Linked DNA regions of Homo sapiens: all the other regions are linked to region 1. Evidence: fine-mapped QTL for protein levels in blood plasma. A gene starts in region 1. Each other region holds a variant in brackets. All regions are shown on one strand. Distances are between the middles of the regions.

Region 1 (5,178 bases):
GTCTGGGAAAGGAAACCTGGGCACAGAAGGGAGATGGCCCCTTCCAGAAACAATCTCCCCTCTCCCAACCCAGGCAGTGGGCGGGAAGCAGGGCCACCTTGAGCGGGAAGCAGGGCGGCTGCTGAACGCAGCTGGTCTCGCAGTTGACGCCAGTGACGAAGGAGGCCCGGGCGGCCGGCTCAGGGGTGAAGTCGAGGTCGTGGTCCAACAGCTGGCCCCATTGCATGAACATGAGTGAGCGCTCCTGGTCCGGAGTCAGCTGATCAGTGGGGAAGCGCACGATCTCGTTGGAGACCGCGCGAGCCTGCGGGACACGGAGATCAGCTGGCGCCTGGGTCCGCGCACCGCGTGGCCGGGCCTCGCCCCCTCTGCCCGCCGGCGCTCACCAGAGCCACCGGGAAGCCGTTGCGCTTGACCCCGGGCGTCCAGCCGTAGGGAAGAGAGAAGCCGTCCTCATACTCCGCCGGCAGCCAGCGCACAAAGGCACGGTTGGAGGCCCCCAGCGTGGGGCTGCGTCTGCAGGGGAGGACAGGGCGCTGACACCGGGAGGCTTGTGGCGTCCGGGACGCCTCTCTGAGCCCGGTTCCTGCAGCCACCCCCAGCCAGCCGCACCTGTTGTTGCACATCCCGGTGATGGTGCGGTATTTGTCCTGCTCCGGGCAAGTCACCCCCACGTCCTGGTAGGCGCAGCCGCTTGACTTGGACAACACATTCAGCTGGGCGGGCGTCAGCACATCTGCCGGGGGAAAGAACAATGGGGGAGCTGAGCCGCCTCACTTCCTATCCCAGGCAACCTGAGGCTGAGGAGCCCTGGAGACTCCTGAGACTCCCTGGAGGAAGAAGTTGAGGGGATCACTGAGAGACGGCTGGGGTCCCTAGGAGGAGTCACTAGTGGAGCAGGGACCTGGGGTGTGATGGGCAACAGTACCAGTGACATTGAATGGCCTTCGCCACAGGGACCGCAGCTTCCTCTCCAGCAGGTCTAGAGCCACGTGCAGGTAGTCAGCGGCCCTCACCGCCGTCCTGGTGGCTGCCACCGGCTGCTTGAAGTAGGATAGGAGTTCCATGGGGCTGGCTGAGCCGCTGCGAAGCCGCTGCTTGATGCTGCTTGGAGAAAGGAGGAGTGAGGGCCAGAGAAGGGATACAGACCCACCCAGCAGAGCCCCAGCCCAGGGGCAGACATGCAGGACCATGCAGGCAGGCCCACGGGTGGGAGGAAGGCTTCCTTTTATAAAAAGGATATGGACCTGGGTGTCCAGACAGAGGCAAGGCTTTGGGAAGGATGGCTTTTAAGCTGTTCTCCCATCCAGAAACACAGGGACAGACAGACAGAAAGGGAGTCCACATGGGTCCCCATAGTCCCCCTCTCCCACCTTCAAGCTCCCTGCTGCCTGCTGCTTCTCTGAAAGGCCTGGGACATCCTTGCCCAGAGCTGGGCAGTGCCTCGTGCCCCACCTTTCCCGCCGCTCCTTGTAGGCCTTGTCCACCAGCTGCTTGGCCTCCTCCATGGAGCTCAGCACCAACGAGGTGTCCACCTCCCCCAGGACAGCTGCCCAGAGCAGGGATCACAAAGTCAGGAATGGGCCCCAACCCCCTATCAGGCCCCAGAGCTAGGAAGGCCTGCTCTGAGAAAAGGGGTCTCTGGAACACAACCACCCCAACACACCATCTTCTCCCACCTTGGGAACTGTTACCTGGAGCAGCACCTTCAGAGGGCTGGGGCGTGGCCAGAATGGCCAGGAGCCCTGCTAGGGCCAGAAGCAGCTTCATCTCTGCAGTGAGACCCCCAGCCCAGCAAGGTCCTAAGTCCACCATGCATCTGAGAGAAGAGAAGAAGGGAACCCCCATCTCTCTTCTCCTGGGCTGCTCAATCCCCCTTTGTACCTCAGCCCCACCTCAGAGGGCCCTGTCTATGGATAAAGCCAGACCTCCTTGAGGGAGGGGCTCACTGCTCTCTTATCCCCTTGCCAGCTGCTGTCATCCAGCTTCCAAGGACCCCACCTCCACAGCTCACCTGATATTGTCAGCTCCTCTTAGCTCAATCTGCGCTTTTATGTCCTCTAAGCTGGGGGTGGGGTGAGGTAGAGGAAGGTCTGATCCTGGAGACTGAACTCTTTCTCCTCCCCCACTGGGGTTGGAAGGTACACACAGAGGGGCCCCTGAAATGGGGGGAAGGGGCAGGAAAGGAGGGGCCAGCATTGTCCCCAGCCTTTTTTTTTTTTTTTTTTGAGACGTTATCTTGCTCTGTTGCCCAGGCTGATGTGCAATGGTTCAAGCGATTCTTCTGCCTCAGCCTCCCGAGTAGCTGGGATTACAGGTGCCCGCCACCACGCCCTAGCCTCTAGCCACATCATCAATTATTTCCTTAGGCAAGAAGTAATTTTTGTATTTTTCCTTAGGCAAGAAGCTAATTTTTGTATTTTTAGTAGATACAGGGTTTCACCATGTTGGCCAGGCTGGTCTTGAACTCCTGACCTCAAGTGATCCACCCGCCTCAGCCTCCCAAAGTGCTGGGATTACAGGCATGAGCCACTGGCCCCAGCCTGTCCCCAGCCTTTGAATTTAGCACTACCAGCCCAAGATTTCTCAGCTCACCATTGTGTGCCTATACCAGTGCTTGTCCCCAGGGGATACACACAACTAACCCCTCTGAAATTCTGGTTACACTGGTTATCCAGGGTTCCTTTGAAAGGAACAAAAGTCAGGAACTGGTAGCCCAAGGAATTGCAGGGAATAGAGTGCCCCCAGGGAAGACAGGAGGATGAAAGGGAGACCTGGAGTAAAGATGACCCAATTGGCCTCAGGTGGCCATCCCCCACTCCAACAGTAACCTGCATCCAACAGCCACCCAATGGGCAGCCTCTGGTTCTTGGTGGGGCTAAGGGGACAGGAAATCTGGCTGGAGACCGTTGGGCTTCACAGGAAGGAGGACCCTGGGGACTGTGGGCGCAGGACCAAGATAACTTCCTCTATCCCTCCTCACTCCCCTTTCTTCTTGGCTTCTGGTAGAGGGCTGTCTCCAAACTCCTCCTCCCCACCACCATCTGCTCCTGGATTTCAGGAACCAGGAGAGAGCAGAACTGGTTGTGGTTAGTGATCAGTTAGGTGATGCAGCCCAGGGCCTCTCTGGGACAGGATCAGTGCAGTTGGGAGGACTTGGGTTAATGATTCAGAATAATTCTGAAACAGAAGAGGATATTTCTTGCTTGAGAAAGCCCAGCAAAAGGGCCACCAATCTCAGCAGGAAAAGTACTACGACTTTTGACTGAATCAGTCTACCTCTCTGGGCCCTGGTCAGGCTGAGCTCGTGCCAACCATGCCTCCCATGTCCCATTTAGGTTCCCCCTCCTACCTTCAGCCACCTTCCCGCCACCCACTCTTTTTTTTTTTTTTTTTTTTTGAGACAGGGTCTCTCACTGTTGGCGGAGCTGGAGTACAGTGGTGCAATCTCGGCTCACTGCAACCTCTGCCTCCTGGGTTCAAGCAATTCTCCTGCCTCAGCCTCCCAAGTAGCTGGGATTACAGGCGCCCGCCACCATGCCCGGCTAATATTTTGTATTTTTAGTAGAGATGGGGTTTCAACATGTTGGCCAGGCTGGTCTCAAACTCCTGACCTCCTCCTGATCCACCCACTGTTGGGATTACAGGCGTGAGCCACCGCGCCCGGCCCACTCTTGTCTTCTATGCCCAGACCACCTCTTGGCCAAGGGACAAGGGACAGCAACACCCAGAATATCTTCCCAGTGTGTCCAGGGATTCTGTCCCCTGCTGAGAAGGGGAACCAAGCTTTTGCCCTGCCAGTGACTTGCTGTGTGTGAAGTTGGTCGAGTGGCTCTTTGTGAATCAAGCTCTAGAATTTTAGAGGCTTTTGGAAATGATTTTTCAATCCTTTAAGTAATATAATTTTCACTGATGAAAAGTTTGAGAACACGAGTATGCAAAAATAAAAATAAATCAAAATTACTCATCATCAAGTGAGATTGTGGGTACTTTTTTCTTTCAAGGTTTATCATTGTCTTCACATAAATAAACAATAGGAAGGAAAATAATTGCCCATAATCCCACCACTCACCAATACCTCATTTAAGAATTTGATATCCTATATGTAAACATAATATATATTTTTAAATATTGATAAGAAGAACTTTAAATATTGTTTTACCATCTACTTTCGGTACTTAACAATTTTAGTCTGAGCATCTCCCTGTGTCAATAAATACAGGTTTACTTCATTTTTATGTCTGTATAATATTTCATATAACTATTTTATATGATTTATTAACTAATTCTATCTCATTAGATACTTAGAGTTGTTTCTGATTTTCATTATTATAAGTAGTACTAGGATAAGCATCCATGGAGTTAAATCTCTCGCCACATCGTCAATTATTTCCTTAGGCAAGAAGTAAAATTCCTGCGTATTTGGGTATGCGTGTTTTAGGGCTTTTTAATATTGATAGTCAAATGGCCTGCTGAAGATTTTACCTCATCCTCCCATCAGCCATGCATGAGAGCACCTGTCCCCTGTCACCCTTGTCAACCTTGAGTATGCTTGAGTGTCCTTTCGCTCTTTTAAGGGAATTGTCAAGGCTCAACAGGGGAGAGATATTTAATGCAAGCCCCTTATTGTAGAGCTGAGAAAGAAGGAGCCCAGGGAAGGAAACGACTTGACCAAGGTCAGCAGTGTGACACAGTTCAGAATAATCTCCATGCCCAGTCTCCTGACTTCCAAACCAGTGCTCTTTACCCAGTAGCCTCTGGACACCTGTTCCTGACCTTTCATTCAATGATTTCTTCAACAAGTATTTACTGAGCCCTTGTCATTCAATGATTCCTTCAACAAGTATTTACTGAGCCCTTGTCAGGTGCTGCGCTGGGCATTGAGCATTCTCCACTGAGCAAAGCATGAGCCTTATCCTCAAGGAGCTCACAGAGGGGAGCAGAAAGGCAAACAAATGGCACCCCCAGAACCAATGCAGGGACCTTAGGGAGCAGCGAAGAGCAGCACTTGGATCAACTGGGGGAGGTCAGTGAAGGCTTTCTTGAGGAATTGATTCTGGAGACTGTCTTGAAGAATGTCTCAAAGCTGACCAAGTAGACACAGAGGAAGAGCATTCTGGGCCCAGAGAATGACACTGTCGGCTTCACTCAGTTCCAACACAGGGAGAGGGTGGACAG
Region 2 (5,178 bases), 2.4 Mb after region 1:
GACCTCAAATGATCTGCCCGCCTCGACCTCCCAAAGTGCTGGGATTACAGGGGTTAGCCAGTGTGCCCGGCCAAAAATTGAGATCTTTAAAAGCTTTTTTTTCTTTTTTGAAATAGGGAACGCTTCATGAATTTGTGTCATCTTTGCACAGGGGCCATGCTAATCTTCTTTGTATCATTCCAATTTTAGTATATGTGCTGCTGTAGTAAGCACTTAATGGCATCTTAAAGCAATTTTTTGATGGTTCTTATGGAAAAATATGACTTTTATGAAAAATAGAGCGATTTCATCAGCATTATGTTATTACCAAAAGTAAATTAAAATGCACACAGAGAATGCGATACTTTTGATCTTCTCCATGTTTGAGTACAGAATAGTGGAAGAGTGAATGTGTGCCTATGGTTAATTTTGAGGGTTTGTTTTGAAATCTTGTTCCTTAATGTATCTTATTTTTGTTTACCTGCCAATGGATAGAAAATGCTTGTGACCACGTGAATTTTCACCCACTTGAATAGATTACTTTATAATTTCATCTATTACCCTGAAGACAGAATTCAATGTCATTCTTACCTTTATATTGTCTTCTCACTCAGGTTCCTCCCATTAAACCTTAACACATAGTTCAGTAAATAGAAGGTGAACGAATTAGTGAATGCATACCCCGTTTTTGCCATCCTACTAGCTTCATAAGAAGCCTAATATCACATGCATAGATTTGTTGAGTTCTGGGATAAATTTTTTCTTATTTGTTTTACCTTCTTATTTTTCAGTCACTGGAGGAGGATCCATGGCCAAGGGTGAATTCTAAGGACCATATACCTGCCCTGGTTCGTAGCAATGCCTTCTCAGAGAATTTTTTAGAGGTTTCAGCTGAGATAGCTCGAGAGAATGTCCAAGGTGTAGTCATACCCTCAAAAGATCCAGAACCACTTGAAGAAAATTGCGCTAAAGCCCTGACTTTAAGGATACATGATTCTTTGAATAATAGCCTTCCAATTGGCCTTGTGCCTACTAATTCAACAAACACTGTCATGGACCAAAAAAATTTGAAGATGTCAACTCCTGGCCAAATGAAAGCCCAAGAAATTGAAAGAACCCCTCCAACAAACTTTAAAAGGACATTAGAAGAGTCCAATTCTGGCCCCCTGATGAAGAAGCATAGACGAAATGGCTTAAGTCGAAGTAGTGGTGCTCAGCCTGCAAGTCTCCCCACAACCTCACAGCGAAAGAACTCTGTTAAACTCACCATGCGACGCAGACTTAGGGGCCAGAAGAAAATTGGAAATCCTTTACTTCATCAACACAGGAAAACTGTTTGTGTTTGCTGAAATGCATCTGGGAAATGAGGTTTTTCCAAACTTAGGATATAAGAGGGCTTTTTAAATTTGGTGCCGATGTTGAACTTTTTTTAAGGGGAGAAAATTAAAAGAAATATACAGTTTGACTTTTTGGAATTCAGCAGTTTTATCCTGGCCTTGTACTTGCTTGTATTGTAAATGTGGATTTTGTAGATGTTAGGGTATAAGTTGCTGTAAAATTTGTGTAAATTTGTATCCACACAAATTCAGTCTCTGAATACACAGTATTCAGAGTCTCTGATACACAGTAATTGTGACAATAGGGCTAAATGTTTAAAGAAATCAAAAGAATCTATTAGATTTTAGAAAAACATTTAAACTTTTTAAAATACTTATTAAAAAATTTGTATAAGCCACTTGTCTTGAAAACTGTGCAACTTTTTAAAGTAAATTATTAAGCAGACTGGAAAAGTGATGTATTTTCATAGTGACCTGTGTTTCACTTAATGTTTCTTAGAGCCAAGTGTCTTTTAAACATTATTTTTTATTTCTGATTTCATAATTCAGAACTAAATTTTTCATAGAAGTGTTGAGCCATGCTACAGTTAGTCTTGTCCCAATTAAAATACTATGCAGTATCTCTTACATCAGTAGCATTTTTCTAAAACCTTAGTCATCAGATATGCTTACTAAATCTTCAGCATAGAAGGAAGTGTGTTTGCCTAAAACAATCTAAAACAATTCCCTTCTTTTTCATCCCAGACCAATGGCATTATTAGGTCTTAAAGTAGTTACTCCCTTCTCGTGTTTGCTTAAAATATGTGAAGTTTTCCTTGCTATTTCAATAACAGATGGTGCTGCTAATTCCCAACATTTCTTAAATTATTTTATATCATACAGTTTTCATTGATTATATGGGTATATATTCATCTAATAAATCAGTGAACTGTTCCTCATGTTGCTGAATTTGTAGTTGTTGGTTTATTTTAATGGTATGTACAAGTTGAGTATCCCTTATCCAAAATGCTTGGGACCAGAAGTGTTTCAGATTTTTTAAAATTTTGGAATATTTGCTTTATACTGAGCTTTTGAGTGTTCCCAATCTGAAATTCAAAATGCTCTAATGAGCATTTCCTTTGAGCATCATGCCTGCTCTGAAAAAGTTTCTGATTCTGGAGCATTTTGGATTTTGGATTTTCAGATTAGGGATGCTTAACCTGGATTAACATTCTGTTGTGCCATGATCATGCTTTACAGTGAGTGTATTTTATTTATTTATTATTTTGTTTGTTTGTTTGAGATGGAGTCTCACTCTGTCATCCAGGCTAGAGTGCAGTGGCGTGATCTCGGCTGACTGCAACCTCTGCCTCCCGGGTTCAAGTGATTCTCCTGCCTCAATCTCTCTCCCCAGAAGCTGGGATTACAGGTGTGTGCCACCACACCCGGCTAATTTTTTTTTTTTTTTTTGAGATGGAGTCTAGCTCTGTCATCCAGGCTGGAGTGCAGTGGTGTGATCTCGGCTCCCTGCAACCTCTGCCTTCTGGGTTCCTGCGATTCTCCTGCCTCAGCCTCCTGAGTAGCTGAGATTACAGGCACGCGCCACTGTGCCCAGCCAATTTTTGTATTTTTAGTAGAGATGGGGTTTCACATGTC[A/C]GTCATGCTGGTCTTGATCTCCTGACCTCGTGATCCACCCGCCTCGACCTCCCAAAGTACTGGGATTACAGGCGTGAGCCACCGCATCCGGCCTGAGTTTTATGCTTTCAATGTATTTCTTACATTTCAGTTCAAGTGATTTTCATGTCTCAGCCTCCTGAGTAGCTGGAACTACAGGTGCGTGCCACCATGCCTGGCTAAGTTTTGTATTTTTAGTAGAGATGGGTTTTCATCATGTTGGCCAAGATGGTCTTGATCTCTTGACCTCATGATCCACCAGCCTAGGCCTCCCAAAGTGCTGGGATTACAGGTGTGAGCCACCGTGCCCAGCCAACTATGCCATTATTTAACCATGTCCACACATTCTGGTTATTTTCAATATTTTGCAGAAGATAATTCTTGATCGGTGTGTCTTATGCCACAAGGATTAAAATATGTATTCATTGCTACAAAACAATATCTCGAAATTTAGCAGTTTAAAACAACAAATATTATCTCCAGTTTCTGAGCCTCAGAAATCTGAGAGTGGTTTAGCTGGGTGATAGTCTCGTGGTTTTGGTCAAGCTACCAACCAGGGCTACAATCTTTCGAAGGTGTCATTGGGGCTAGAAGATCTGCTTCCCGCAAGACTCACAGCTGTTGGCAGGAGACCTCAGTTTGTTGCCACATGTTCCCCTCCAGAGGGCCTCTCACAACATGGCAGTTATTTGTCCCCAGAGCAAGCAACACCGGAGGGCAAGGAAGAAGCCATGATGTTTTTTGTAACCTAGCCTCTGAAAGTGTCATACCAATTCTGTATTTTGTTGGTCACACAGACCAAGTCAACTACAACGTGGGAGACTCCTACACAAGGCATGAATTCTAGGAGGTGGGCATTTTTAAGTGTCATCTGGAAGGAGGCTGTCACAACCTGGAAGTTAAAAGCATTGATATTCTGAAATACAGCGTGTATAACATTGTTTTAGTAGGGTGTGCAATAGTTATGTTTTGGTAATAGCATTAATGAACAATGTTATTTTCATCTTCCAGACATCTGGAAGATTGCTCTAGTGGAGTAAAACATCTTAATGTATTTTGTCCCTAAATAAACTATCTCACTAACAAAGTTGAGAATAATTTTTTTTTTTTTTAACAGGGTCTCACTGTCCCCAGGCTGATGTGGAGTGCAGTGGCAAAATCATAGGTCACTGTAACCTTTAACTCCTGGGTTCAAGTGATCCTCCCATCTCAGCTTCCTGAGTAGCTGGGACTACAGGTGCATATCACCACACCTGGTGGATTTTAAAAATTTCCTTAGAGACAAGGTCTCACTGTGTTGCTCAGGCTGGTCTTAAATTCCTGGCCTCAAGTGATCCTCCTGCCTCGGCCTCCCAAAGTGCTAGGCAAATTTTAATCTTAGAGACAAAATATTTAGGCAGTATTAGTGGTTGCATTAGGGATTACAATGTACATACACTTATAGACTACTTAGAATCAATGTTCTATGACTAAAAGTGGAATGTAGGAACGTTACTAGCCAGGTGTGGTGGCATGTGCCTGTAGTCCCAGCTACTCTGGAGTCTGAGGTAGGAGGATCACTTGGGCCCAGGGGGTTGAGGCTTCAGTGAGCCGTGATCACACCACTGCACACCAGCCTGGGCAACAGAGTGAGACACTGCCTCAAAAATAAATAATAAAAGTAACAAAAGTTTTAGCAAAAGGAAAAAAAGTTAAAAGAAAGCAAGCTGGGTATGGTGGTGCATTCCTGTAGTCCTAGCTACTCAGGAAGCTGCGGTGGGAGGATTGCTTGAGCCCAAGAGTTCCAGGCTATAGTGTGCGATGATCACACCTGTGAATAGCTATTGGACTCCAGCCTGGACAGCATAGTTAGGCCCTGTCTCTTACACAAAACACAAAATAACAAAATGAAAACAGGTCGGGTGCGGTGGCTCATGCCTGTAATCCCAGCTCTTTGGGAGGCTGAGGTGGGGGGATCACCTGAGGTCAGGAGTTTGAGACCAGCCTGGCCAACATGGTGAAACCCCATCTCTACTAAACATACAAAAATTAGCTGGGCGCGGTGGCACACACCTGTAATCCCAGCTACTTGGGAGGCTAAGGCAGGAGAATTGCTTGAACCTGGGAGGCAGAGGTTGCAGTGAGCTGAGAATGTACCACTGCACTCCAGCCTAGGTGACAAAGTGAGACTTCGTTGCAAAAACAAAAACAAAAAAACAAAAACAAATGG
Region 3 (5,000 bases), 91 kb after region 1:
TTTTAAATGTGGCAATTAATATACACATTGAAAAGTCGCTGTGAGGGTTAAACACAACATGTCTGCAAGCCAAACCCAGCTTATGGGCCACCAGTTTGCAACCTCAGGGGAAAAGTGTGAACTTTTTAAGGGTGGGGCAATGGTTTCTATTTCTGCTGTTCTTGCACAGTGCTCAGTGTATGTTTCTAAAAGATGGAAATCCCTTCAATTGACCCCTTCTTTGCTCTGGTGCAGAGCAGGGGAAGGGACTCAGGAACTCCCAAGTGATGGGAAGGAGGTGGGATGGGGAGCATGCTGGGATGAAGGTCAAAAAGTCCTGCTGGTGCTAGTCGGAGGAGAAAAAACAGAGGTGTGAATTTCCACTTCTCTCAGACCAGTCATGGGTTAGGGAAACCCAAGGGAATCAGGTACATCACTCTTAGGAAACATGGGGACAAGAGAGCACAGGGTCTTCTCACAGCCCAGAGCTGGGTGAAGCTCCGGGTGTGTGTAGGGCGAAGTGTGAGTCTACCTTGCTAGCCAGTGACAGGCAGGGGCGGGGGGCCCGTCGAGGACTCTCCAGCTTGACGATGCTGATGAATCCAGGCTCCAGATTGTCGTCATCACTGGCATTGCACAGGTACAGCGGGTGGGACTGCAGAGAGAGACAGACTTGGGTTAGGGAGGCTTTAGGCAGCAGGAGTGAGCTGTGAGAGCCATATACCTCTCCATTTTTCTAGGGAGGTACCAGGCAGGTCTCTTGGTGCTGTAAAAGAGTAGGCCTTATGATTGGATTGCCTCTTAGTAAGCTAGTGACCACTGTTTGTCACTTCAGGATGCTGGGGCCAAGGACACAGGTAGTGGAGGCAGATAGGAGGGAGAGGGTGTCCCAGAGGGGACCTAAATGAAGAGCTTGCTGCAAAGCAACTCTAACAACCTTCAACTCCAACAATCCTACTTCTCTAAACTGGCCAGACGCAGAGGGCTCCTCTCCTGGCCCCAGCCTCTCTACCTCCTGATCCTTCTACCTGCTCCCCAAGCCCCAGGCTAAGAGAATATCCATGTGTGCCTGCATCAGTGCTTTCAGAATGCCCATGGGCAGTGCTGGATGCTGCTGGTGCCTCCTGCCTCCTCGGGATGCCCCCAGGCAACTGTTGCCCTGTAGATTCCCATTTCTCAGGAGGCTGGGTCATCTCACTCGGTGCTACCTTGCTTCTCTCACTAGCCCCTTTTTTGCCTCTGCCCTGTACCCATCCTGGGATCAAGCATGGTGTTGACAGAGAGGTGAGACTATCTTGCAATGAGGCTTGGCTAAGACATAAGCTTTGACAGCTCACCCTGGTCCCAGGAATGATGCCGTGGAGGTGGAGCCAGCCCAGCCCATCTGCTCTAAGGGCAGATCCTGTCCAAGACCCTGTGCCTCTGAGCCCAGCTGGTGCTGAACAATGACTAAAGGAGAACGTGCTGACAGAAATCTGAGGCTCTCCTCATCAAAGGGGTGAGACCACCTTACTCTCTCTTCTCATTCACAGCGATTTGTACACCCATTTGAATCTAATTTTCCCTAAACAAAATGTCAGAGTGCAATGAGAACAAAGTATGACTTATTTGGCCCTGAATAATCCTATGGTCCAGGGACTCCTATATAGTAGAAACCCCACATATCCTGGCAAGAAAGAGATTTCTTATTAGAGAGCTGCCCACACTTCCCCCTCTACTACTGTTGATGTCTGAAGGACTTCCAGAAAGAACCATCAGAGGAACCACAGAGAATCTTGAATTTATAAAGATGTTTATGAAGATAATGTCAATGATGGATTTAAAAGCACACTTTCTGAAAGCTCTTTCAGGCTATTTCCTCTCACTGTGTCACCGCGGTCCCTTGAACATAGTAGGTTCTCAATAACTATCTACTACCTTGCTTTGAATCAAAATCTCTGGGCAGGGGGTGTTGAGATAGGAAGGAGTTCCATTCTTGCTCCCAGAGTTTAAGGCCTACTAGTCTGGTAGTGAGCAAGGTTTAGTGTGGGAGAAAGGTTATCATGTGCCCCTGCCCCAAGAAAAAGGCTGGGGCATGAGGGTGGAGTTGTTCTTACATCAGTGAAGCTGTAGCCCCTGTCTCAACAAGCTGCATTAGTCTCTCTATCTGTCCATGCATCCATTCATTTCTTTGTTCTGCCAGCACGGAAGGCCCCCTTGGTGTCAGGCTCTGTCCAATGCAGTGAGGAGCTAATGATGAGTAAGAGAGGCTCCTTGCCTTAAAGCAGCTCAAAAGACAAGCATGCAAACACATCGTGATGTTACAATGCAAGGGGCCTATGGGAGGGCACAAAGAGGGGCAGCTAACAATACATATGGGAAGCAGAGCAGTTTTCACAAGAGGTGACTGGAGAGCTACCTGGAAGGCTAACTAGGTATGTGTTCACCTCAGGGACCAATGAAAGGGAGCGGGGTTGGGGA[G/A]CCACATTCCTGGCAGAGGAAGCCACTGCACCAAGGAACAGAGGCCTAGCACGAGGCTGAGGTAGACTGTGGGCAGTGAGGTCTGGCACGAAAGGGAAGGCAGGACATAAGGCTGGAAGGATCTGCAAGAGTCAGGCCACAGAGCTGAGACCACAGATTTGCACTGGAGACCAATTTCTCTGAAGACTGTGGAGGAGACTCTGGTGTGGTGGGGAATCTGAAGGCAGCTGCTCCACCAGAGCAGAAGATGGAGGCCTTCCCTGAGGAAGGACAAATCGCAGCCACAGAAGGTTCTGCTCTGCTTGCTCCTCGACCCTCCCCACATGGTCCAGCCTTCTCCTGATGACTCCAAGATGCCGCTCACTGACCAGAGGGTCGCCTGGGAGAGGAAAGTCACTTTGGAGAAGTTCCTACAGTGTGTCTGCAGATATTTAAACAGCACTCTTCCCCAGGTTTGAACAGGGAACCAGCATCTACAGCTCAGTGCTGCATTGTAGGATACCTCTGACAAGGTGGAAGGGAAAAAAAACCTGGTATGAGCCACCAAACTTGCCTGGTTCCGAATTAACAACTATGGAAGAAGGAATGGAAGGAAATTAAACATCAATAAAGGCCTCTTGTGTGCCAGAGCTTTTAGACATTATTTCACCATAAGGTAGGTGTTATAGCCATTTTTAAAAACAATTATTTAATTTTTATGTGCACATAGTAGGTGTATATATTTATGGGATACATGATATGTTTTGATATAGGCATGCAATGTGTAATAATCACATCATGGAGAATGGAATATCCATCTCCTCAAGCATTAATCCCTTGTATTACAAACAATTCAATTATACTCTTTTAGTTATTTTTAAATGTACAATAAAATTATTGTTGACTATAGTCACCCCATTGTACTATCAAATACTAGGCCTTATTCATTCATTTTAACTTTTTTTTTAAAACCCATTAACCATCTCCATCTCCCCACTACCCCTATCATAGCCACTTAAAGAAGAGAAGCTTGAGGCTGAGAGAAATCAAGGTCACACAAGATTTGAACTCAACTCTGCCTGACTCCATTGTCGGAGCCATGGAGCTCCAAATGAACCCTCCATCCAGCAACCCTCCATCCATCTCCATGCTAATGATAGTCAGGATGGGGACAGTACAGTTTATATTTATTGGGTAAATACTGTGGGCCAGTGATTGTTCTATGCACTTTTTCATATTAACTCTTTTCATCCTCATAACAACACTATCAGGTAGAGATTGTTATTGTTCCCATTTTAAAGATGAGGAAACTGAGGCACTAAAAGGTTAAATAACATGCCCAAGATTACACAGCTAGTAAGTGGTAGAGATTAGAAAAAAAAAGGAAAGTAGTAGTAGGATAAGGTTAAAAAAATATTTAAGAACAATTTACATTTTATTTTGAAAACATGATACCTTCCCCGAACTCATTTACTAAGAAAATTTATCTTACTAAAGCATAAGGACCCAAATACAAGTCCCTAAAATGTTGATGGTGACCCCCGGGATTCTTAGACCCTCCTCTCTTTTCACTCTTCTTTTTTTTTTTTTTTTGAGACAGAGTCTCGCTGTGTCACCCAGGCTGGAGTGCAGTGGTGCAATCTTGGCTTGCTGCAACCTCCACCTCCTGGGTTCAAGCAATTCTCCTGCCTCAGCCTCCCAAGTAGCTGGGACTACAGGCGCCCGCCACCATGTCTGGCTAATTTTTGTATTTTTAGTAGAGATGGGGTTTCACTATGTTGGCCAGGTTGGTCTTGAACTCCTGACCTCATGATCTGCCTGCCTCGGCCTCCTACAGTGCTGGGATTACAGGCATGAGCCACCGTGTCTGGCCCCCTCTTTTCACTCTTGATGACTTCTCTGGGTGACAGCAGCCAATCCCATGGCTACGGTGCCCACACAGAGGTCAGTGATTACATATGTACAGTTTGGTCTTCTCTTGAGCTCCAGACCCTTATGTCTAACCCTGGACGTTTCTACCTTAATAATCTTAAGTAGAACACCTCAAACTCAGCATGCTCAAGACTGAACTCATTCTATCCCCAAAACTGCTCCTCCAGTGTTTGCTGTCTCTGGGATTGGAACCATCATCCATCTATTACCCAAGCAAGATGCTGTCCTCCTAGCCTCCATCTCCTTCACCCCCACTCTAACCACCAATATCCAATCAATCGCCAAATTCTAACAATTCTACCTCCTAAATATTTGTCTTATTTTATTCTTTCTTCCATTCTCACTATCGCTATTGTAATACAGGCCACCATCACTGCCAACCCTATTTACCGAAATAACCTACTCCCTAGGGTCACTTCATCCCATTCGTTCTCTATATTGCAGCCAAAGTGGTCTAAAATGCTAACTTGAGCACGTTACTCTTCTACTTGCAGCTCTTACAAGGCTCCTCATAGCTCCTGAAATAAAGTCTGTACTCTTAAACATAGCTGAAAAGGCTCTGCCTGGTCTGGGCCCTGCCTCATGGCTTAACATTCCCATCCTATATCTCTTCCCACCTTGCGACCTATGTTCCAGAAATAATAACTTGT
Region 4 (3,436 bases), 28 kb after region 1:
CCGGTCTCTGTTGCCTGCAAAAAGAGGGCAACAGATGGCAAAAGTAACACACCATCCCTCTGGTGGGCTCGTGCTCCCCCAGCTCTGCCCCATCAGCGTAAGCAGCACAGCAGCGCAGGAGCACAGCATTCCTCTCCCGGAGCCTCGGCCCAGCCTGCTGGAGACCTCAGACACCCCCACAGTGGGAGGGAGGGCAGGAGGGGAGGCCCCAGCCCCAGCCTGCGAGTAGATGAATGGAGTAGAGGGGACTGGAGTTGGCTGAGGAGCCCGCGAGAGGAGGGCCT[C/T]CCGTCAGCATCAGGGCAGGTAACCCTGGACATGGCATCACAGTCAGCGTCCTGAAGCCATTACTAGCTATGCAGAGGAAAGGGCGACCCTGCCCACAGGCCGCAACAGGCGACTAGTGATAGAATATTGTGCATCCCAGTCCTGATCAGCAGAAGCAGCAAAGCAGTGGAATGTGGGTGGGAGGAGGCAGGTGAGGGAGCCCGGAGGCCCGGCCCCACCTCTGCTGATGGAGGCAGGCAGCGTGGAATGGGAGCTGCTGGTGGGCAGCAAGCAGGGCCACCAGGTGGCAGCAGGCAGGGGCTGCCCAGGGCGGGGAGTGAGCACGGACCCGGGAGAGTGGCTCCTTGGCTCTGCCCGTCGCACTGCGGCCTCTCCGCTCTGGTTCCCCTTTCTCCCAGGCTGGGAGGCGTGGGTAGGGCTTGGGGCCTGAATTGGCCTTCGGAGGCCCCCTGGGCCTTCCTACAGTTGCTGTGCCCCAGGCCTCCCCATCTCCAGGGTAGCAGGAGCTGGTGATGCTGATGCCCCCGCTGCCCGCCTCCTGCTCATCCTCCGAATCATATTCAATGCTGATTTCCAAGCACTTGGGGGAAAGGCAGCTGGCCAGGCCAGGCTCCAGCGCCCGGCCACGGGAGCACCTCCGGGAAGGGCCCAGCCGGCCTCTCCCGCTAGCCTCTAGTCCAGTCCTGGGGCCCTCAATTACGGGGAGGCCACCCCTCTCCCGTGTGGGGCCCAGTCGTCCAGAGGCCTGGGGCCCATTGTTGCTGAGAAGTCGGCTGCAGTGTTCTCGGGGATCTGGAGGCCGCCTGCGGCTTGGGGGCTTCTCAGGGGAGCCCCCTCCTCTCCTCCGGCTGCTTCCACCAACTAATCCAGGCATGTCTTCCAGGCAGTCTCCAGCCCTGGAGGACTCAGGAGACAAGGGACACTGGCCAGGTCTTCGGGGCTGACCACTGTCACAGCCCAGCCCCAGCAATGCAGGTTCAGGCGGGCCAGGGTCTCGGGAAGAACAGCCTGCCCCTGACTTCTCCTCCTCCTCGTCCTCCTCTTCCTCTTCCTCCTCCTCCGGGATGCTAAAGAGCTTCTTGCTACAGAACTGCTGGAGGGGCAGCTCCAGGATCTGCTCCAAGATCTCCTCATCGCTGTCAGTCTCACAAAAGGGGTCGGGCTGGGACTGGTGGAGGTGGGGAGGTGGGAGTAGAACACAGCAGGGAAGAGAGATGCGTGGGGAAGAGGAGAGCGAGCTGCGATCTTTGCCCTCAAACGAAGGCAGGGGTTACGGACAACCCCACAGCCCTCCCACGGCTTCCTCCGAGAGGAGAGAACCAGAGGGACGGTGGCTGGCCCAAATTCACACACATATCCAGTGAGAGCCAAAGGAAGAATTAGGGAACACACTCTAGGAACCATCACCAGCCCCTGTGGGACAGGAGCATTGAGGAGCAGGCCTCCCCATCCCCTCCCCAGAAGCTACCAGCACAAGGATCTTAGGTGGCACCGGCCTCCCCTGGCCAGGGCGCTGTATCTGGTGGGCTGGAGGGAGAGAAGGTACAGAAATGAACTCCTCCCCTTCCCCTTTCTTTCCAGGAGGGCAGGGGCCAATCCTGGGGCACTTCCTATCTTCTGCTTAGGACAGGGCCCAGGCCACAGACCTAGAATGTTTCTGGCACTCAGTGGTGGTCAGAGCACCTGCTGACACACAGTGGGGAGGCCCCGGAGTTTGAGGCCTGGGGCCCAACAGCCCATCCCTACCCCGTTACCTTGGCCCCATTCTCCCTGATGCTGTTGCCAGCAACCTGCTTCTGGAAGGAGCAAGTCCTGGAACCCAGCTCCTCTTCCTCCTCCTCCTCCTCCTCTTCCTCTTCCTCCTGGATGTCTGACAGGTCTGAGTTGCGGCCGTGGTCCACGAGGGAGTTCACCAGATGAACCCCAAGCTCTGCTGTGTCCTCCTTCTGCAAGAAGTGAGGCAAGGCAGGAGAGATAAGGACAGTGAGGGGGCACAGGGGGTTCCAGGCAGGGTCAGCCCCAGCCACAGTAACAAGGGTCCTTTGGCAGAGGGAGAAAGAGCCATGTCCTAAATGGGGGAGGCACACCATGGCTCAGGGGCAGGGTGGGAGAAGGGAGATGGGAGCCACATGGGACAGAGAAATCCTAGAAGAAAAACAGACACATAGCACAGCCAAAGGTGTGAGAGCAGGACCAGAGCAGAGGACAGGCAGAGAGGGCAACTGGATTTGCGCTGGCAAAAGGTAGGGAGACAGGCCTCAATTCTCTGAAGTGACACAGTGTGTCCCCAAACCCCTACCTCAGCCCTGGGCCTCAGCCCAGACCCTGGGTCTCCTCCTTGGCACATCTCGGTATTTGGCGCCTGCTGGGCCCGTGCTCCCTGGGTGGAGCTGGAGGCCGGACAGGCCTCTCCTGCAGTCCACTCGGCCTCCTGCTTGGCCAGTGAGGGAGCTGCGGGGCCAGGGTCCTTCTCACCCAGGGTAGATGTGCTGGCTGTCCTCTCCTCTGAGGTGCCCAGCACTGCTGCCCCAGCCTCCTCCTGGAACAGAGAGCACTGAGGAAGGACCCAAGCCCAGGTCCCTCTGCCAGCCTGCACCTGCTCCCCTCTCCCCAGACAGGGTACCTGGGAGCAAGGTGCTGGAGGGTCCTCGTGGGACCCTTTTGCCATCTCTCTGGAAGGGCTTGCAGGGGGTGCTCCTGGAGGCTCTTGAGTTCCAAGGGGAGCAGGGTGCTGGAGAGGAGAGCTGGGGTCTCCAGGCCCTGGGGAGGCTGAAGCAAGGGGCGCTCTGGCCTCTGGGCTTGGGTGCGGTGAGGGGCAGGAGACTCGGGCTGGCAGGCTGGCCGGAGCCAGGGCGGGAGTGATAGGAGCCGGGATGGAGTCCGCCGACTCCCCGTGGGGCGACATGGTGCGCACGACCACCTCACGACACACCTGCAGCAGCTGCAGCTGGGACAACTCCACCAGTACACTGCCTGCCGTGGGTGAGGCCACCTCCATGATCTGCAGGGTGGAGGGGGCACAGGATGGGAAGCAGAGGCTGAGACAGCCAAGCGTGAGGATGCACTGACAGCAGTGGCAGCTAACTGACAGCAGTGGCAGCTAGCATTACGCCAGGTACTGTGCTAAGCCCTCTGCATGGCCTATCTCATT
Region 5 (5,178 bases), 19 kb after region 1:
GGGCAGATCACCTGAGGTTGGGAGTTCCGAGACCAGCCTGGTCAACATGGTGAAACCCTGTCTCTACTAAAAATACAAAAATTAGCCGGGTGTGGTGGCACATGCCTATAATCAAAGCTACTCAAGAGACTGTGGCAGGAGAATCGCTTAAACCTGGGAGGTGGAGGTTGCAGTGAGCCAAGACCGCACCATTGCACTCCAGCCTGGGCGACAGAGCAAAACTCCGTCTCAAAAAAAAAAAAAAAAAAAAAAGGGAGATATAATGCTAGTTCTACACAATCTCTTCCATGATATAGAATGTCATAGAAACTTTCCACCTCATTTTATGAGGCTAACTGTATTCTGATATTAAAACCTGACATGGACATTACAATAAAAGAATACTACAGAACAAGATAACTCATGAAAACACATGCAAAATTCCTCAACAAAAGAGTAGCAAATTGAATTCAGCAATATAAAAAAATCATAACAAATGGGGTTTATCCTGGGAGTACAAATCTATTTCAACTTTTGAAAAATCAATTTAATTCAGCTTATCAACAGCGTAAAGAAAAAAAAGACATTTGATCATCTTAATAGATGCAGAACAAACATTTGACAAAATTTAACATCCAGTTTTGATAAAACCTCTCTGCAATCTAGGAAAAAACAAAAGGAACTTTCTCTGCCTGACAAAGGGCATCTATAAAAACAAAACAGAAAAACTCAATGAAAATCATTCTTAATGGTGAACAATTGAATGCCTTCCCCCTAAGATTAGGAACAAAGCAAGGATATCTGTTTTCACCACTTCTAGTCAACATTGTACAGGAGGTCCTGGCCAGTGCAATAGGCAAGGAAAAAAATTAATGTCATACAAATTGTAAAGGAAGAAATAAAACTGTCTCCATTCCCAGATAACAAATTGCTTTAAAAATTCCAAAGAATAACCGAGAAAAAAGCTACTAGAACTAATAAGTGAGTTTAGCAAGGTTGCAGGATACAAAATCAGTATACAAAACTCAATCGTATTTCTTCATCCTAGATTTTTTCTTTGCAGGACAGTTCTCCAGGTAGCCTTAGACCAACCCAGTTCTTCCCCTTTGTTGTTTGTAGTTATCAAGAATGACTGTAAAATTTGCTGGGAATACAACATCCTGAGATAGGGAGGAACTGACCAGAACAGCCTGGGCTCTCTTCCAGTCCCCCAACAGAAGACAGATGTCCTTCAAGGCTTTATCCCAGAGAGTCCTGATGCTCCTGAGGTATAAAACCCAGAGTAGGCTGTCTTCCAGGGTCCCACAGCTGCAGTGCAAATGGGGTACATGCAGATAAGATTCCACCCAATTTCCTTATTTTTCTTATCTGCTATATATTTAGAAACTATGAAAGGATGCTTTCACTTATCAAATGATTTTTCAACATCTTGAAGTGAGCATGTGATTTTTCTCCTTTGATCTGTTAAAGTAGTGAATTCTATTAACATAGAATAATAGAATTAATCAATTTAATAATAAAATGGTGAAACACTTTTGCCTTATTAAGATAAATGCTACAGGCCAGGTACAGTGGCTCATGTCTGTAATCCCAACAGTTTAGAAGGCCAAGGCAAGAGAATCACTTGAGGCCAGGAGTTCAAGACCAGCCTGGGTAACATAGCAAGACTCCATCTCTTAAAAATTGTTTTTAAATTAGTTGGGCATGGTGGCATGTGCCTATACTCCCAGCTACTCAGGAGGCTGAGGTGAGAAGATCATTTGTGCCCAGGAAGTCAAGGCTGCAGTGAGCTGTGATCATGCCACTGTACTCCTGCCTAGGTGACAGAGCGAGACCCTGTCTCAAAAAAAAAAAAAAAACAAAATTAAAAATGCTACAGCCATGATGTATATTTAATTTCCTAAAGCTATATTTAGGATATTCTGTGTTCATAAACCAGATAGATCTGTCATAATGTTTTCTTGTCCTGTTCTAGATTGGGTGACAAGATTATTCAAGTCTCAAACATTGAATTGGATTGCTTCTCTTTTTTTTTCTGTACTTGTAATCTATTTATCAGCTTCACATGCAGTGAGTCCTTTGAATCTAAGTATCTGTGTCTTTCTTCAGTCCTAGAAAATTTATAGCCATTATTTGTTCTATCACTCATGGTCTCTATTTCTCCCCACATCTTCCCAACCCCAGGGTATTCTTATGAATAGGTATTGAAACATTTGACCCCATCCTCCATGTATAACTTTTCTTTCATTTTGCTCATCTCTTTTATCCCTTTGTACAGCACTCTGAGGGAATTACTTACCTCAAAATTCAAGCTTACTAATTGTATCCAACTATGAATTATATGCTCTTCAC[G/C]CATATATTGAGTCCTTTTTTAACAAGAATATATGTATTTTTTGCAAGATCTCTATTAGGATCACTTTCATAACTACTTGATCTTGTTTCCCATATGTAATTCCTTCCTTTATTTCTCCAACAATAACTGTAGACTTTTTAAAGTTTTCTCCTAATGCTTTACTGACTTATGTATATTTTTCCATTTCCATTTGTTATCTCTCTTAGTGAAGTTGGCTTTCCTCAAATATTTTTTGAGTCTTTACTCTGTTCTTGCCATTGTGGTTGGGAGTCTTTGCTGGACGGCTGGGTGGGAACTGCTGCCATGATTCTGAGGGTTTTGGTTGAGAGGGAAGGGTCACAGTATGCTGCGGTTTGGTGGCTTCTCACCTGGGCGGTGATACATCTTGTTTCTGCCAGGTGCGGCCAGCCACCTAAAGTACCACCTGGTCTCTGATCCAAGCTGCAACCCTTACTGTTCTCTAAGTCTGTCATCTAAAGGCAGACATCTTCACCTTTGCCCTTGGCCCATGGCAGAAGGAGAATGTGCAACAATCATTCAAAGAAAAACCCCAACTAACCACACCATCGGTAGCCCCTAGGGTCTCTTCTGCCCTGTTTGCACTGCCTCTAGTCCAGAGGCAACGTGCAGAGCTCTCCCACATATACCCTACTCTCAAGTTTCTCAGTATGATCTGCCATCTGTTCTTGTCTTTTCCAGAATCCTGTTGTTTTTAGTCTACTGAGAGTCCCCTTTCTTGCTTTCAAATGGAACTGTGTATAGTGTTTATTTGTTCTATTTCTCTCATGTCTATTATTTCTGTGCATTTGGTATAGAGGAGAAAGACTGCAGTGTGTGTTCAGTCCACCATCTTGAAACTGGTGCTTTCCCTCTGTGTGTTTCCCGTCTGTCCCATCTTCCTCCACAACCCCAGCCCCAGTAGCAAATATCTGACCCTGTGACCACGGGCTCAGGAAGCTACCAAACCACCTTCTTAGGAAAAGGATTCAAAAGCTCGTGGTGTTGATTGGTTTTTGCCCCTGTTAGCCTTAGGATGTAACTTCTGGGGTCTGAAGTCCAGAGTCCAAAGCCCAGCTGCCCCACCCCTCCAAGGAGTCCTTTGCCCATGGAGAGTCCAGCATAGATTTTGTGAAAATAGACTTTATTATAATAAAATGTCTTTTTAAACAAATTCCCCCACCATTCCACACCCCTGGAGACCAAGGTCAAGGTGGGGGTTCAGTCAAACTATCTCCCACCACAGCAAAGGAAACATGCAAAGACACACTCACCCCTCAGAGGGTGGGGGATGGAGTGGATCGGGTAACGGCGGAGAACCCCTACCCCACTCTGAACAGGGAATGTATGAAAATAGCTGCATAAATCTGTCCTTTTCTCCAGCCCCTGGACTCCAACAGGGGTTAGAAGAAAACTATGCAAAAGAACTTGAATCCAATGAGCAAAATAAGGCAAACCCAACTCCGCTTTCGGCCCCGCTGGCCCCAGGGTCTTTGGGGGCGGGACCTTACAGGGGCCAGCAGGCCCCGGCAGGGAAGGATGGAGCACGACGGGGGCAGGGTGGGGCCCACTTTGGCTTGGCCTTTCTCCTTCCTGGGCCTGTGCAGTGGAAGCGAGGTGGAGGAAGCTGAACTGAGGCACTGAGTATATACATATATACAGGCTCCGCCCGCCTGCCCGCTGGGGAGATGGGGCTCCAATAAAATCCAGTGCAAACTTTCCTTCAGGGGAGGGAAGACAGGATCAGGACAGCCAGAGCCATCAGGGGGCACAGGCTCCTTTCTCCCTCCAGGGCCCGTCCTGGGACTGGGAAGGGTGGCAGAAGGGACTAGCGCAGCACTGTGGGACACTAGTAGACGAGGTGGGTGGACCAGGACGCGAGGGTCCTGGGTCCAGTCCTGGCTCAGTGACCTTGGTCAAGTTACATACTCACTGTGGGCTCAGTTTCCCCTCCTGTAGGAGGAAGGTGCTTCTCTAGAGAGTTCATCCTTAAGGAGCCATTTAGCTCTGACCTTCACCAAGGCTCTTTGATTCCCTCTGAATGCCACAGTGTTAACGCAGAAGAACGGGGGCTCTGGGCCCAGTCTGAGCCTTCCCTGCTCAGCAGAGACAGTGATCTGGGGGCCTCTCAGGGCCTCTTCTGCCTGCAGGATGGGCCACAGCTTCACTCCTTCTTCCCAGAGCCCAGCCTCCTGAGGAGCTGCTTCCCCTTGGAGAAGAAACCCCACACCTTCTCGCTTCTGCCCTGGGGCTCCCCACGTTCAATCCTGGGGGCGCTGCCAGAGCTGGGGGTACAAGGCCCACCTGGGGGCCCTGGGGACCCTTGTGTGGTGCAGCCCCAGTCCTGAAATGTGAGACAGAAGGAGCAAGGTCAGGGCCTGATTCCCTCCTGACCCCCTGACCCATTTTTTCCACAGCCTAAGGGGCCTGCAGCCTCCCATGTCACAGAACCATGGCTGACGCTGAGAACCAGGGCCTCACCTCCCACCACTGTCAGAAACACACAGCACAGGTGGTGAATGGGGAGGGTGATGCCGAGGGAGCACTAAGCTGGGAGTCCCAGGGGATGCAGTCTCGGTTCTGGATCGCTCACCTGTGACCCTGGGCAGGCCCCTTCCCTTCTCCCTCCAGGGTGCAGGGCTGACAGGGCCCAAGAGTTCTTGGAACCTGCCCCTCAGGATGGGTGCCCCCAACTTCTCACATGTCACCTCCCTCCAAAAACATGGAGCGCAAGGACAAGGACTGCTTAGAAGCAGCTGTCACTGCCCAGGAAGGTAGCTTCTACAGCCCCTCATAGACAGAAAGAGCGTCTCCCCAAACCCAGCAGATGTGGCCCCCCCAGGCCTTCA

Direction of the effects. Positions count from the first base shown, and alleles are read on the strand shown. Strength reflects both the effect of a copy and how common the allele is.
As copies of A replace C in region 2, the plasma level of the protein whose gene starts at base 2,025 in region 1 goes up (moderate association).
As copies of G replace A in region 3, the plasma level of the protein whose gene starts at base 2,025 in region 1 goes up (weak association).
With allele T in place of C in region 4, the plasma level of the protein whose gene starts at base 2,025 in region 1 is lower (moderate association).
For the plasma level of the protein whose gene starts at base 2,025 in region 1, G is the low allele of the variant in region 5 and C is the other (weak association).

Evidence for each region. PIP is the posterior inclusion probability: the model's chance that the variant is causal. Protein levels are from antibody-based Olink assays in UK Biobank. Linkage for the fine-mapping came from a reference panel and not from the study's own genotypes, which makes the PIPs less certain.
Region 2: its variant is fine-mapped to the plasma level of the MPO protein (UK Biobank, PIP 0.96).
Region 3: its variant is fine-mapped to the plasma level of the MPO protein (UK Biobank, PIP above 0.99).
Region 4: its variant is fine-mapped to the plasma level of the MPO protein (UK Biobank, PIP above 0.99).
Region 5: its variant is fine-mapped to the plasma level of the MPO protein (UK Biobank, PIP 0.98).

The regions. Positions count from the first base shown.
Region 1 is chr17:58,278,911-58,284,088 of GRCh38, forward strand. MPO (myeloperoxidase) reads right to left here and starts at 2,025. Exons shown (of 12, transcript NM_000250.2): 1 at 1,695-2,025; 2 at 1,456-1,549; 3 at 929-1,104; 4 at 613-736; 5 at 387-516; 6 at 98-304. The coding sequence starts at 1,848. RefSeq lists enhancers at 1-373, 2,958-2,975 and promoters at 2,015-2,609, 2,015-2,155, 2,548-2,949, 2,834-3,059, 3,105-3,305.
Region 2 is chr17:60,662,225-60,667,402 of GRCh38, forward strand. PPM1D (protein phosphatase, Mg2+/Mn2+ dependent 1D) reads left to right here. Exons shown (of 6, transcript NM_003620.4): 6 at 771-4,056. The coding sequence ends at 1,328. It also overlaps the pseudogene RNU6-623P. Among named protein-coding and RNA genes, the nearest start is that of BCAS3, 13 kb to the right of the region's middle. The variant A/C (reference allele first, on the strand shown) is at 2,952.
Region 3 is chr17:58,370,400-58,375,399 of GRCh38, forward strand. RNF43 (ring finger protein 43) reads right to left here. Exons shown (of 10, transcript NM_017763.6): 3 at 512-634. Among named protein-coding and RNA genes, the nearest start is that of SUPT4H1, 21 kb to the left of the region's middle. The variant G/A (reference allele first, on the strand shown) is at 2,440.
Region 4 is chr17:58,307,928-58,311,363 of GRCh38, forward strand. It overlaps TSPOAP1 (TSPO associated protein 1), which reads right to left. Exons shown (of 32, transcript NM_004758.4): 19 at 2,909-3,286; 20 at 2,585-2,824; 21 at 2,040-2,231; 22 at 614-1,453; 23 at 1-14. Among named protein-coding and RNA genes, the nearest start is that of TSPOAP1-AS1, 16 kb to the right of the region's middle. RefSeq lists an enhancer at 1,608-2,307. The variant C/T (reference allele first, on the strand shown) is at 285.
Region 5 is chr17:58,297,775-58,302,952 of GRCh38, forward strand. It overlaps TSPOAP1 (TSPO associated protein 1), which reads right to left. Exons shown (of 32, transcript NM_004758.4): 32 at 3,457-4,673. Among named protein-coding and RNA genes, the nearest start is that of MPO, 19 kb to the left of the region's middle. RefSeq lists an enhancer at 4,601-5,178. The variant G/C (reference allele first, on the strand shown) is at 2,332.